Homo sapiens: one gene and its partners. The protein of the gene in region 1 purifies or fractionates together with the protein of each later gene. This does not show direct contact. Each region holds a gene or a part of one and is shown in the gene's direction. Other genes may lie near its edges.

Region 1 (4,281 bases):
CAAGGACATTCCTCCGAGTAACTAGCCTGTCTATCCTGAATTGTGTATTTCCCGCCTCTACTGGATCTTTTGTTTTATTTTATTAACTAATTCATTTATTTGAGACAGAGCCTCGCTCTGTCGCCCAGGCTGGAGTGCAGTGGTGTGATCTCGGCTCACTGCAACCTCTGCCTCCCGGGTTCAAGTGATTCTCCCGCCTCAGCCTCCCAGGTAGCTGGGTTTACAGGCGTCTGCCACCACGCCCGGCTAATTTTTGTATTTTTAGTAGAGACGGGGTTTCACCACGTTGGCCAGGCTGGTCTCCAACTCCTGACCTCAGGTGATCTGCCCACCTAAGCTTCCCAAAGTGCTGGGATTACAGGCGTGAGCCACTGCGCCCAGCCTAGATCCTTTTAATTAGTACATAAACTTACTATAATTTCTTCCATCTTTTTTATTTTATTTTTTTGAGACAGAGACTAGCTCTGTCGCCCATGCTGCAGTGCAGTGGCGGGATCACGGCTCACTGCAGTCTCTACTGTCTGGGCTCAAGCGATCCTCCCATCTCAGCCTCTCAAGTAGTTGGGACTTCAGGCGGGTGCCATGCCAGGCTAGTTTTTTATTTTTTGTAGAGATGAGGGTCTCACTATGTTGCCTAGGCAGTTTCAGACTCCTGGGCTCAACCAATCCTCCCACTTTGGCCTCCTGAAATGTTAGGATTACAGGCATAAGCCACCACACTCAGCCCCATCTTTGAATTAAAAAAAAAAAAAAAATTAGAACGTGGAAAAACGCAACAACAAAAGATTAACAAAATCCCTATCCCATGATAGCCTTATTTTTCTGCTCACCTTAAAAACAAAACTTCTTAAAAGTATTGCGTATATTTGCTTTCTCCATTTCCTCTCCTCCCATCCTTCCCTCCAACTCCTATCAAATTTTCATCAGACTTTATCAAACTTCCACCACTGCCAAAATGGCGTTTCAACATCACTGGTGACCATTGCTACAGTGGCCCATTCTTAATTCTCATTTTACTTGACCTATGAGCAACATTTGAGACAATGGGTCACTCCCTTCTTGAAACACTTCCTTCCCTTGGTTTTGCAGATCTAAACTCTCCTACTTTTCCATCTACTTCATGGATTATTCCTTCTCAGTCTTCTTTGTTGGATCCTCTTCACCTCTCCGACTTAACCTGGTGCATTGCTAGAAGAAACCCTGCTGAGTAAGAGCAAATTGTTTTTAGCATACCGCCGATTTTACTTTCCAGTATTTAAAAATGCTGTGTATCCTTTTAAATGAAAACGACTTAAAAAGCGTGGCTCTCAGGCTAGCAATAGAGATACCAACCCGGGAATCTCCGCACCACCCCCCAAGAGGAAGCAGCGTCTGACGTCTTCCGGAAACGAGCTCCACTGGCCTTATGGGAAATGTGGTCTCCGACGGATGGCCTACACCCGGGAGGAGTCCAGGAACTCTAGGTGGACAGTTACTTCCGCACACGCGTAGTAGGACGGTAGCCGGTATTCAATCTTCAAATCAGCGCCGCGGGAAGTGCGGGCGGGTGTTGCTCCCCTGTCTCTGGACGACGCTGTGACTGATCCCAGGCTTGGAGCCGGAGCTGCGAGCGAGGCAGTGAAAGGGTGGCAGGTATGGCTTTGCTGGACTCGGAGGACGTAAGAGAAAGGCGGGGACTGGCTTCTAGGTTTACCCTACCGAAGATAAAACTTTAGTCTCCAAGCGCAGTGACTTCAGGTTTGGATATGTGGGTCCTGTTCAACTCGAGTAGCTGAGAGAAAGCAAGAGTTGGGCTCCGACTGGCACTGGGTAGATGTCCAGGGCTCTGGTGGGACTGGGAGAGGCTCAATTTGCATTCCTGCTCTTGTAGGTCAAGGTCACTATGTAGGAGTCTGTTCATCTAACTGTACCTTTCCTGGTTCCAAGAGCATAGTTGGCCCGACTGGAGCCTGCGACAATTTTAAGCCGTGTCAAGGGATCCAGTGGAAACTGTAAGCTATTTCAAGGGATCCAGGAAGAAAGCATTCTTGAGAAACTGCTATGGATTAGAAGGGTATTCTCAGCAATCATTTGAAGTAAATGCTATTACCATTTTGCATATGAGTTAACTGAAGCTGAAAGGTGAAATTACTTGCCTGGACTCACACAGCTTAGTAAGTGGAAGAACTGAGATTCAAACTCAGATACATTTTCTCCAAATTTCTTTTTTTTTTTTTTTACAGTATAGCATTCCTGCATAAAACAGAGTTGGGTTTATTCTCCTGAAATGTTTGAGCAATGAATGCTGAGTAAATTTCGATTTGTAGTCATTTTGTAGAGTCTCTTGGTGTATCTGCAGATCTTCCAGTGCAGACTGTGTAAATGAAGATGTGAGTCCCCGGTTTGCCCATTATACCCTTTCTAGAGCCCCAGCAGTTCTAAGCTCATAGGAGATGGCGAGTTTCTACAGAGAGAAACATTTGGAGTTTAAACTGAAGGATCCAGCTTAACAAAAAAAAAATAAAAAAAAGTGTTCCTGGGTCCCTGAATCCAGCCTTCTCAAGAAAGCCCAACCTAATTTGCAATCTCTTATCCCAGCGTCAGAGTAGAAACCAGAGAATCACAGGAAGGAATCATTTTTAGACTTACGGAGCTTCAGAGACCAAGCTTTTAAGTGAGTCAACTCATTCATTATTTCTTCAGGATAAATTTCTGGGAGGAAAAAAAATAACTGTTTCAAGAGGAACCACTTGGTGCTAGATCAGTAGGACAGAAACATATAACATCCTTATCTAAGCTCCATATATTCCTAACAATCACAAGTAGAGATCTGTGCTTATGGAACATGGACTTTTCTGTCTTGCTAGAAATGTCATTCTCCCCCACTAGGTGGCATTTTCTGAGGCTGCAGTGTGGGTACTTATGGTCTGATAGAGCAGGGTTCTACTTTGCATGCAGTCCTGGTATCTCAGGTCTTTCTATTCTCTTCCCCATTTCTACTTTCATAGATTTCTGTGTAAGAGCTGCAGAAAATGATCAGCTTCCAGGTAAGGTATCCATCTATTCATCCAGTTGTTTAAATCTCCCAAAAATCCATATGATAAAAAGGAAATGTATGGTCAGGAAAAATGTAAACCAAATAAAAGATCAAGTCTAAAAGGAAATTTAGAAGATTGGTAAGTTGATATTCAAGTCATAGGGTTTGCAGATGGTTGGAACAAATTTGAGCTGCAAATGTGTACTCAGTCTTCCTGGAAATCATAGTAAATGGATAACCAGCCAGTTAAAAAGTATTGGCATTGCTGTGAAGATAAAGCAAAATTATTCTCCTTGTAAGTAAAGTTTTTCCTGACACAGTTCTTTGAAGAAAATCTTTTCTAATGAGTTTTCACATAGATAACATTAGAAATAACATTCACAGCAGCAGCCTGCGATAAATACAGCATCAGGTTTCCTATGACTTTCTTAGAGTATTCCCTAGAGTAAGAACATAGTGCCAAGCAGCACTAAATGAACTCAATTTATAAGTCCAGGTATGTGGCCTTTTTAATGCCCACCTGGATCCATAAGTAAATCTTGTACCTTTTCCAGTCTCTAGCTATCCTGAGCATTTACTCTTCTACATGAATTTTAAGGTCATCAAAATAACAAATATTGTCAAGGTTCATAAAGCAGTATGTTAGGTATTCTTTTTTTTTTTTTTTTTTTTGAGACAGTCTTGCTCTGTTGCCTAGGCTGGAGTACAATGGCGTGATCTCAGCTCACTGCAACCTCTACCTCCCAGGTTCAAGCGATTCTCCTGCCTCAACCTCCCAAGTAGCTTGGATTACAGGCATGTGCCACCACGCCCAGCTAATTTTTGTGTTTTTAGTAGAGACGGGGTTTCACCTTGTTGACCAGGCTGGTCTCGAATTCCTGACCTCAAGTGATCTGCCTGCCTCAGCCTTCCAAAGTGCTGGTAGGATTACAGTTGTGAACCACTGCGCCCGGCCAGATATTCTTATTAGGATTGCATTAAACTTAATAGGTTAATTTGGAGAGAATTCATGACTTTTCAATGAGTCCTATTTATTCAGGTTTTCTTATAGGTCTTTTATTATAATTTTTTTTTTTTTTTTTTTTTTGAGACAGAGTTTCACTCTGTTACCCAGGCTGGAGTGCAGTGGCACAATCTTGGCTTACTGCAACCTCCATCTCCTGAGTTCAAGTGATTCTCCTGCCTCAGCTTCCTGAGTAGGTGGGATTACAGGTGCCCGCCACCACGCCCGGCTAATTTTTGTATTTTTAGTAGAGACAGGGTTT
Region 2 (3,500 bases), on another chromosome or scaffold:
TTAGGTGCACTTTACATGTGTCTATAAATTGAATGCCCTGCAAACCATAAACCTTTCCTGATTAGGCATTTTACTGACTCTTATTGCCATGTGCATGTGAGTGTGTGTCTACCTATGTGCATACATACCTACATGTATACATACATATGTACTCCAAAACACATACACGTGTATACATGGACATAACTTGTATGTTTCTTTCCTTGCCTTCATTTTTTCGCTAGCTTTCTTTTTATCTCACTAGCCTGCTTTCCTACACAAAAAGCCTCGGCTTTGCTCTTATCCTTCTCTTCTCTCAACTCTATCAATGGATCTTGAGATTTAGGAGATAACTGTGGTATTTATGTACCTTTGAATGACAAACAGACGTTCTGTTCCTTTGAGATCATCCTTTTCAATTAAGTGCGTAGATTTGGGCAGCATCCATGGGCAGATATGAGGGAAGAAAAAGATAACCTGTTTGGCCAGCATGACTAGTCAAATCAATGCTGAAGATAAAGGAACTGATAGCCAGATCACCCCTGAGTCCATCTGAGTCCCATTCAGCATTTCTTTCCCACTGCTCACGGGATGCCTAGCACTTGCTCTCTTATTTGTATATGTGTGTGTTGTGTCACTTGGACTAGTTTCCATGCCACCTAGGTAGCCATGTGGGTTCAGGTGATGTTGCTGATATTATGAATGGCATGGACATTGCAAACACTAAGTCTCAAAAATGATGAAATGATATTTCTTGTTTGCAGTGAAGTAGGAAAATAAATTGTGATGACTACTGTTGATTGAATACCAATGCTGCTAAGTGTTTTTTTTATTTTTGCATTTTTCATATAGTGTCTTCCCTGCTGTTATAAGGTGGATACTCTTTTATTCTTATGGGGAAATGGAGGCGCACAAGTTAAATACTGAAATGTTTTAGAAAACTGTTTAACGAGAGGTAAAATGTGCAATTATGGCTAAGCTTTAGTCATTAAAATAATTTGGTTTATTAGATTAACCAGTTCTCTCAAATTCTAATTAGTGCAGGTTTGATGGTAGAGAGGTTTGTGGGGTCTCATCATCCCCACTTCATTGTAATCCCTTCATTGTCCGTTGTGTTGTGTTCATCCCCTCTCATCGCGTCTCTGAGATCCATGAACCTACCCAGGACTCTAGGCTGAAAAAGAATCAGGAATTTATGGCGGGTATAGAGGCATGATTTGGGATTGGTTGGATGTTATGAGGTGAGGAGCAGCTGATTGGAGTTCATAGGGATGAGATGCATATCTCCAACAGGCCACTGAGTTATCTTTGCTACTAGACATAGAAATCTAAATGCACAGTTGAAGGGAGAGGGGAGACTAGTAATACCTGCCCATAATATGGGGAACAATAATTACTTACTGAATTGTGGGACAAAATTTTACATGTGAAATTATGGTCTGTCAGAAATGGAATTAATTTGTTGTGATGAAAAGTTTTTTTCTAGAATATAAGTATTGTAGCATTTCATGTAGATATCAGCTCCTAAGAAAATGGGGAACTTGAAAATGCTTTGAGAAGAACAAAATTCGTTCACTATGATTTTGTTTAAATGTACATTTCCAAAATCGAATATACTTTTCTGTCTAAATCACAACCTGAATGTCTGCTAGTTAACAGTTTCATAAAACCTCATACATATACCAGGGCCCCAAGTTACACAGCATTATTTAGAGAACCAAGTAATTATTTATGATAGTGGAAATATAAATAGAACCACAGTTCATGACTTAGGTAATAACCCATCCCCAGCTATGGACATAAGTCTAGATAACATTTCTATTTAGGAGACTGGTATCATTGTGGCACATACCAGAGTCACCCTGCCAGTCTCAGGAGCAGATCAGTGGAACAGATGATGGTTATTTTTAGGCATAGGTTTATACTGATAAACCACTAACTGGCACACCCTTAAAAGCTATTTCAGTTTAGTAACCAGGGCCAGAAAATAATGTTCCTATAGCAACAAAAATAGTTGTAGAATTCATCCACCAGAAATATGGCCCAGCTTCACTGATAAGTGACTGGATGTTGCTATATCCTCAGAAATTGCTGCACGTAAGTTAAAGAGTAGGAAGTTGGAGGATATGACAGAATACAGCTTGGGCTTGGACTTTGTCCAGGAAAATGAGAAGAGAAGAGGTATATAGTAGGGAAGATTAGGATGGCTGACAGAATCATGAAGGTTCTTGAAGCTGATCGTGGGAAGATAATACATGTTGCCATCTGGGGCTTAAAAGGTGATCTTCCTGAAGGCAACACTGGAGACATTGGTTTGGCAATAGTGTTACACTCTCTGAGAGAGAATTCTGAAACTGGAAACCAATTGGAGAATTGTCTAGAGCCCAGACTAAATCTTTGCAGATATTTAGGAGAAAAAAAAAATGGCAGGTATTTCCCGTCAGTGATAATCAGGTTAGAGCTCTTAAGCCATAGTTGATTTTTTCATAGAAAACCAATTCACATGAACCTTCCCTACTAGATCATTCTATTCCAGGATTTCTGTGACCGCTTATGATTGTGTTCTCAACCTAGAAGCACTAGGTAGAGAATGAACTTTCTTTCCAAATTTTGGTTTGGGTAACCAAATTCTACACTGCTGTTAAGACTTTGCCTCTCATATATTCTTATAGATGTATCTAACTGACCCTCACAAAAAACCCTTTCATCATTTCAAGATGATACACCTCTCATTACAGGTACAGAGGTGCAGTTCCATGGTACACCATAAATCTTGACTTACCACCCTACAAAAGATGGCATGAATTGATGCTTGACAAGGCACCAGTGGTATGCTATGATGCTTAAATCTTTTATTTCTTTATTTTTATTTTTTATTTTATTTCTTTATTTTTATTTATTGATTGATTTTTTTTTTGTTTTGAGACAGAGTCTCACTCTGTCACCCAGGCTGGAATGCAGTGGCACGATCTCAGCTCGCCGCAACCTCCGCCTCCTGGGTTCTAGCAATTTCCCTGCCTCAGCTTCCCGAGTAGCTGGAATTACAGGCACCTGCCACCATGCCGGCTAATTTTTGTATTTTTAGTAGAGACAAGATTTTGCCATGTTGTCCAAGCTGATCTCAAACTCCTGACCTCGAGTGATCCTCCCACCTCAGCCTCCCAAAGTGCTGGGATTATAGGCATGAGCCGCCATGCCCGGCCATATTTCTTATTTTATTTATTTATTTTCCCCCCAAGGACCGTGGAGATTCTATATTAAATCTTTTATTTCTAACTTTATTAAATATTATTGTATTTTTAAAAGAACACTTCATGAAATTACCCACAGAATAGTTTAAAATTGTGCTTTTGATACCTTTCTGCCCTATACGTTAAGTGACAGCAGAGGAAAAGAGGTCATTCCTCTGTAGCCTTTGTTCTTTTTTGTAAACTTTACCTTTGTTTCTTTCCCTTTATGTCATCTCCCTTCATGTAAATAATTAAGAATCAAATTCACTTTAAAGATAAAATTAGACTTAC
Region 3 (2,299 bases), on another chromosome or scaffold:
GTCAGTTGGCTTCTGCAGTTAACATTCCAAAAAACCCAAGTGGAAGGTACAGGGCTTTTTATGACCTAGCTTTGGAAGTCATACAGCATCACTTATGAGCTAAGTAACTTAATCTCTCTGTGCTTTAGTTTTCTCTTCTATAAATGGAGATAACTATACATACTTCATAGGACTGTTTTGAGGATTCAATCAATTAATATAGATATAAGGTCCTTAGAACAGTGTCCAGCATCTATTAATGCTCAATAAATGTGACCTATTATTGGCCAGGCATGGTGGCTCACACCTGTAATCCCAGCACTTTGGGAGGCCAAGGCGGGTGGATCACTTGAGGCCAGGAGTTCGAGACCAGCCTAGCCAACACTGAAACTAAAAATAGAAAAAATTAGCTGTGTGTGGTGGCGCACTCCTGTAGTCTCAGTTTCTTGGGAGGCTGAGGCATGAGAATCATTTGAACCCGGCAGGCAGAGGTTGCGGTGAGCCGAGACTGCACCACTGCACTCCAGCCTAGGTAACAGCAAGACTCTCTCTCAAAAGAAAAAAAAAAAGTTACCTATTATTAATAGCTTTATGTCCTCAGTGTCATTTATCATTTAGTCTTTTAGAATTGGAGAATAACTTTTATAAAGGGTATAAGTAGGACATTACTTTCTCATTCATTAAGTTCTTCTATCAAATAATTATTAAGCACTATGTGCCAGATGCTTTTCTAGACAGTGAATATGATGCAATTAATAAAGATTTAATTAAATTCAAATTTTTACTAGGTTTTAGTTGGTCTCTGATTATAGGTTTGTGATATGTGCAAATATTGGTCTCATACTTTGTTATTTTTGTTCTTCAGTTTCATACATATTTTGACTAGAACATCTGAAACTAGATTAAATAAAGGAGTTGGCCATTAATTTTGAATCACATTTATTTTAATGAAAACTAACTTTTATTTTTAGGAGTATCTAACTATCAAGTTGAAGAAGATATAGGAAAGTTGAAGTCTTGTCTCACTGGCTTCCTTCAGGAATATGGTTTATCTGTAATGGTGAAAGATGATTATGTCCACGAATTGTGAGTATTTTTTAGGGTATCTAGGAGATGATTCCACACCTGTCATAAGGCTAATCAAAATTCATGTCTCTGTGGTCTCCTTTAGTTGCCGATATGGAGCTGCTGAGCCACATACCATTGCTGCATTCTTGGGGGGTGAGTTCCATATATGAGAAGACTCACCTGTTGTTACATAGTACAGTTACTATTTTAATACAAAGTTTTGTCGTCTAGCTATTTTAATTAGGGAGGTCAGTGAAGCAGGATGTTATATTTCTTTCTTTTTTTTTTTTTTGAGACGCAGTCTCACTGTTTTGCCCAGGTTGGAGTGTATTGATGCCATCATAGCTCGCTGCAACCTCAAACTCCTGGGCTCAAGTGATCTCTCGCCTCCGCCTCCTGAATAGCTGGGACTACAGGCATGTGCCAGTAAGCCTGGCTAATTTTTCAATTTTTTGTAGAGACAGGGTCCCACTATGTTGCTCAGGTTAGGATATTTATTCAGTTGCCCCTATACTGGTCTCCCTGCCTTCCATCTCTCCCACTGCCATCCAACTTAAACTCCTTAAGAGTCATTAATCCTTCTAAAGCATAGCTCTGATTGTGTCCTTTTACTAACCCTCTGCCCCACCAATATACATAACACTCTACAACAGTCCTCCAAGCAAGTCCAAGGACTTTGGCTTGACGTTAAAAAACCCTGTGTTTTGGTTCCACTCGGCCTTTCCAGCCTTGGTTTTATCATATTACTTGCTTTCCCCCCAGGATGCCCTTTGATTTCCTGCTCCTAGATCTTTGCTCCTCTGTGCCTATTTGCCTTAAAAATATGTTTTTCTGCATGTCCAAAACCTATATGTTCTTCAAGACCCAACTCAAAAATGACATGTCTTTCATAAAAGCTCCCTTTACTTCCCTCCCTCACTCTACTTCCCCCTTGTCTTAGTCAGTTTGGGCTGCTGTAACAGAATATCATAGACTTATAAACAATAAAAATTTGTCACAGAGTTCTGGAGGCTAGAAGTCTGGGATCAGGGTGCCAGCATGGTCAGGTCTGGTGAGCGCCCATTTCCTGGTTCATAGGCAGCTCTCTCTTCTGTGTTCTCACATGGTGAAAAAAAAAATGGCAAGAGAAGTCTCTGGGGTCTCTTCTTAGGGCACTAATCCTATTCATGAAGGTTCTACGCTCTTGACCTAATCACCTACCAAAGGCCCTATCCTCATACAATTACACTGGGGGTTAGGATTTCAACATATG
Region 4 (4,216 bases), on another chromosome or scaffold:
CACGGTCTGTGAGGTCTTGATCCTCAGAAACGAAGTACAGGCTGGGTATGGTGGCGTGCACCTGTAGTAGCAGGTACTTGAGAGGCTGAGATGGGAGGATCACATGATCCCAGGGAGGTAGAGACTGCAATGCTGCACTCCAGCCTGAACAACAGAATAAGACCCTTTCTTTAAAAAAAAAAAAAAATACAGGCCACAAGCAGTTAACCTCGCAGTTAATTTGGGAAGAATTTTTTCCAAAAATCATGTAAAATATTCAATTCAGCTTTACAGTTAAAAATAAGAAATTCCATTCTTTTAGGGAAGATGAAAAAGTCCTGTTGCATGGATGGTGGTGATGGCTGCACGACGATGTGAATGTACTTTTGCCACTGAATTGTATCCTTAAAAATGGTTAAAATGGTAAAATTTTGTTATGTATATTTTACACAATAAAGAAAAAAGAAACTCCAAATGTTCTTTAATAAATGCCTTAAGCGGCCGGGTGCGGTGGCTCACCCGGCCTGTAATCCCAGCACTCTGGGAGGCCGAGGCAGGCAGATCATCTGAGGTCAAGAGTTCAATAAATGCCTTATGCATCTTACAACTGTATTGGGAAGAGAAGAAGAAATCAGCAATGAGGGAGTGAAGCAGAGGCCTGGGAATCATGATGTGGACAGAAAGAAGGGACAATCAGGAGCCTCCCCTGCACCTGCTGCAGTCCCAGGCCCGTGTTCCAGGGTTCTTCAAGGCAGAAAGCCCCAGTGCCTCACCCCAGGAGGGGGCTTTTCTCTCATATCCCAGCCCCTTGGGAGGCTTTTTCTTCTCACTCCCTGGGCTGGGAGTCAAGAAGACCTCAGTAGGAGTCCAGCCTCTGCAGCCTTGCTGCGTGTCTGACAACAAAACCCTTTCCCTTTCTGGGCTTCAGGGTCACCGACATGTACCACAAGGAGGATTCCCAACCTCTCTTCTTGCCCAAACGCTGCATGATTCTCTCAGCGACGATACAGCTCGTCCGGTTCACCCTGCCTAGATTCTAGCAGGAACTATGGTGCCCTGAAGGTCAAGCCCATGGTGATCTCCTTGGTCAGCCCCAGAAGGGACCCTGGGCTCTCCTTCTGCTCTTCCTGCTGCCCCTTCATGGGGCTGGGAAAACCTAGGACCTGCTTCTCCCACCCTGAGGCCCCTACTGTGTACCAGGCCCGGGTAAGGTACCAGTCACATACTCGCACTTAGGCCTCACAGTTCATCCCATTTTATGCACAAGGCGACTCAAAGACTGAGTCTGGCCCAGAGAAGGCCTGCAGGAGCTCCGAGCCCCGCCTGGGCGCCGGGAGCAGGGGCGGGGTCGTCCGGGACCCTTTCCCGGAAGGGAGGCCGCAGGGGCCTGCGGGGCGGGGCCTGCGGGGCGAGGCCCGGGGCGCGTCCCGGAACCAGAGACGGGGCAGCGCTCGAGTTCCTGCGCGGGACTGCCAAGGCACGACCACGGGCCGGAAGGCTGCCAGGCCCAGTGGGCAAGCGAAGAAATGAACCACCGCAACGCGGGCGCTTCGGGGCGGGGCCGAGTGCGAACCTGAGCCCCAAATCCCGACCCAGGCAGGGGCGGGGCCCGGAGCGGGGCCTTGGAGGCCCAGCCCGCGCGGCGACGTCTCCGCGTGGCGTCACGGCACCGACTGACGGCCACCCACCATGGCCGCAGACCAGCGCCCGAAGGCCGACACGCTGGCCCTGAGGCAACGGCTCATCAGGTACCCGGGCGGGGGGCGGGCGGCGGGGGGCGCGGGGCTGCGCGGAGAGGCACGCGCACGCACGACGCACGCACGCACGCACTACGCACGCGCCTCCGGCTAGGAAGCCGCTGCTACCCATCCCGTCCGGCCGCTGCCCCGGCCCCGCTGGAGCTTCTAGGGCCCGAGGCGGGCGGCGCCGTTGGGCAGTCCCGGCGGGTGGTCTCCGGGGCCGCCTCCCCGACAGCGCCGTCTCCAGGCCGCCCAGTTCAGGAGACGGCCCCGCCCTCACCGCTGTTCGGCTGTGTCAGCCTCGCTTGGCAGCCTTTACTCCGGAGAAGACCTTCACCCTGGCGCCTGAGAGGACCTCACCCAGGGTGGCCCGTCAGCAGCACCTGGGCCTGGCTCGAGAGTGACCTGGGAGGGGGCTGAAAGGGCAGACAAGGGAGAGTCGGGGGAGTCGGTTCACAGGCAGCACACTTGACCTGTGAGGGGGCCCTCGGTGGGACGGTGGGTGAGGTCGCCTCCCACTGGAGCTTAGGGCTGGCACCCAGCGAGGGGCAGCAGGGCCACGTGGCTGGCAAGGAGCTGTTTAGGGCTGAGAGCCAGGCACCTAATGTTGGTGCCCTGGCCCATCCCATCGAAGACACGCGGCCTTATGGAGTCCCCATGGGACGGGGCAGCCACCTTTTCTCAGGATCCGGGAGACTGACGCGGACACATGCAGAAATGAGCAAGGAGGCCACAGAGGCTGAAAATGCTTTCAGAAACAATCCGAAGTTTCAGCGACTTGTTACCCCATCTGCTTCCTGCTTTGCAACCACCTGTGGAGTGGAGAGACAAGGCAGGGAAGCAGCACCTTGCCCTTCCAGCTCTCATTTCCCCCCCGCCACCAGAAACTGGGAAGGGGTGGGCGGGGGTCTGCGATGAGTAGACTTCACCCTTTCGGTCTTCAGACATGGCTGTCCACTCCTTGCCTGTCCCCACAGCTCTTCCTGCAGACTCTTTTTTCCCGAGGATCCTGTTAAGATTGTCCGGGCCCAAGGGCAGTACATGTACGATGAACAGGGGGCAGAATACATCGATTGCATCAGCAATGTGGCGCACGGTCAGTATCACACCTCAGGCTGGCAGGGCAGGAGAGGAAGGCAGTGCTGTGAACCTGGTCCCAAGGTGACCTGAGATTGCCGAGAGGTGTGGAGAACCTGGGTGGAGTTGAGGCACTGTCAGTATGCAGAGGAGGCTCAGCCTTCGCAATATAGCTGTGGAATTCTGCAATCTGGAGCTGTGCTAAACCAGGCAGGGGTCAGCAATCTAGGTCTGTGAGTCTAGTTCCACTTGGGACTGATGATGAGCTCACAAAGTGGCAGATGGCCCAGCTGTGACCAGCAACGTAGCACAGTGCTGGCCAAGTGCTGGGGTCATGGCAGTGCTTCAGCCCCATTGGCCATCTCAGGTGCTAGGCAAGGGAGCTGAAGTAGGAATTCAGTCATCTTGATGAGGCTGCCAGAGCTGATGGAAAGAAAGGGAGTCTGAGACTCAGCAGGCACATGGAAGATGAATAAAGTTGAGGTTAAAAAAAAAAAAAAAGCAGAGACTCTAGTCTTAGACTGCTTGGGCTCAAATCCCTGTCCCCTACTTACTAACTTGTGATCTCGGGCAAGTTACTTAATTCTCAGTGCCTCAGTTTGCTTATCTGTGAAAGACATAATGATACTAGGTACCCACTTTAAGGTGTTTGGAGAATTAAGTGTGTTAATTTATGTAGCTTGCTCTGAATGTGCCTGGCACATGGTGAGCTCTCAGTACATATTCACTGTTATTATCCTTGGCCTTTGACAATCAAGATTACCACCAGCCCCCTTGGCTGGTGAAGTGAAACCAGTTGACAGTCACCCCCCACCCCACCTTTGTCATACAAGCCTCAAAAGGCCTTCCAGCCTGGGCAACATAATGAGACCTTGTCTCTACCAAAAAAAAACTTAAAAATTAGCCAGGCATGGTGACTGGTGTCTATAGCCCCACCTGCTCAGGAGGCTGAGGTGGGAGGACCACTTGAGCCCAGGAGTGTGAGGATGCAGTGAATGCCATGATCACACCATACACTCCAGCCTGGGTGACAGAGTAAGGCCCTGTTAAAAAAAAAAAAAAAAGTCCTCCTTAAAGACATGGGCTTTCTAGACAGGGTTCTTCTGCTGAAGCGGCTTTCCTTCTGCCAGAATCTCAGGAACTCCTGGATCTGCCTTTCCAGAACCAGCTTCTCTCTCCCTGCTCTGCCTTCAGACTGCCCTCTTTCTACCTCTCCCTCTAGAACTACATCTCTTCTGGCTGGGTTTATAGCTTGGGGCTGGGGGAGGCCCAGTGGGACTGGCTGAGTGGAGCCAGCCGTGTGACGGAGGCGGCCCTCTTCCAGTTGGGCACTGCCACCCTCTCGTGGTCCAAGCAGCACATGAGCAGAACCAGGTGCTCAACACCAACAGCCGGTACCTGCATGACAACATCGTGGACTA

What was found.
Region 2: the proteins of ZNF684 (region 1) and ASAH1 purify together in Homo sapiens (affinity purification with mass spectrometry, with the first as the bait; one large-scale study listed by BioGRID). This does not show direct contact.
Region 3: the proteins of ZNF684 (region 1) and NAE1 purify together in Homo sapiens (affinity purification with mass spectrometry; one large-scale study listed by BioGRID and IntAct). This does not show direct contact.
Region 4: the proteins of ZNF684 (region 1) and PHYKPL purify together in Homo sapiens (affinity purification with mass spectrometry; 2 studies listed by BioGRID and IntAct, with this or other methods). This does not show direct contact.

Annotation. Positions count from the first base shown.
Region 1 is NC_000001.11:40,530,156-40,534,436, forward strand, and holds the start of ZNF684 (zinc finger protein 684), read left to right. Parts: upstream 1-1,481; 5' UTR 1,482-1,632; intron 1,633-2,987; 5' UTR 2,988-3,011; coding exon 3,012-3,026; intron 3,027-4,281. UniProt on the Homo sapiens protein: May be involved in transcriptional regulation.
Region 2 is NC_000008.11:18,070,608-18,074,107, reverse strand, and holds part of ASAH1 (acid ceramidase isoform a preproprotein), read left to right. Parts: intron 1-831; coding exon of another isoform or gene 832-852; intron 853-2,717; coding exon 2,718-2,808; intron 2,809-3,500. UniProt on the Homo sapiens protein: Lysosomal ceramidase that hydrolyzes sphingolipid ceramides into sphingosine and free fatty acids at acidic pH.
Region 3 is NC_000016.10:66,804,678-66,806,976, reverse strand, and holds part of NAE1 (NEDD8-activating enzyme E1 regulatory subunit), read left to right. Parts: intron 1-950; coding exon 951-1,065; intron 1,066-1,150; coding exon 1,151-1,200; intron 1,201-2,299. UniProt on the Homo sapiens protein: Regulatory subunit of the dimeric UBA3-NAE1 E1 enzyme. E1 activates NEDD8 by first adenylating its C-terminal glycine residue with ATP, thereafter linking this residue to the side chain of the catalytic cysteine, yielding a NEDD8-UBA3 thioester and free AMP.
Region 4 is NC_000005.10:178,230,003-178,234,218, reverse strand, and holds the start of PHYKPL (5-phosphohydroxy-L-lysine phospho-lyase), read left to right. Parts: upstream 1-1,416; 5' UTR 1,417-1,668; coding exon 1,669-1,727; exon of another isoform or gene 1,728-2,375; coding exon of another isoform or gene 2,376-2,550; intron 2,551-2,695; coding exon 2,696-2,814; intron 2,815-4,119; coding exon 4,120-4,216.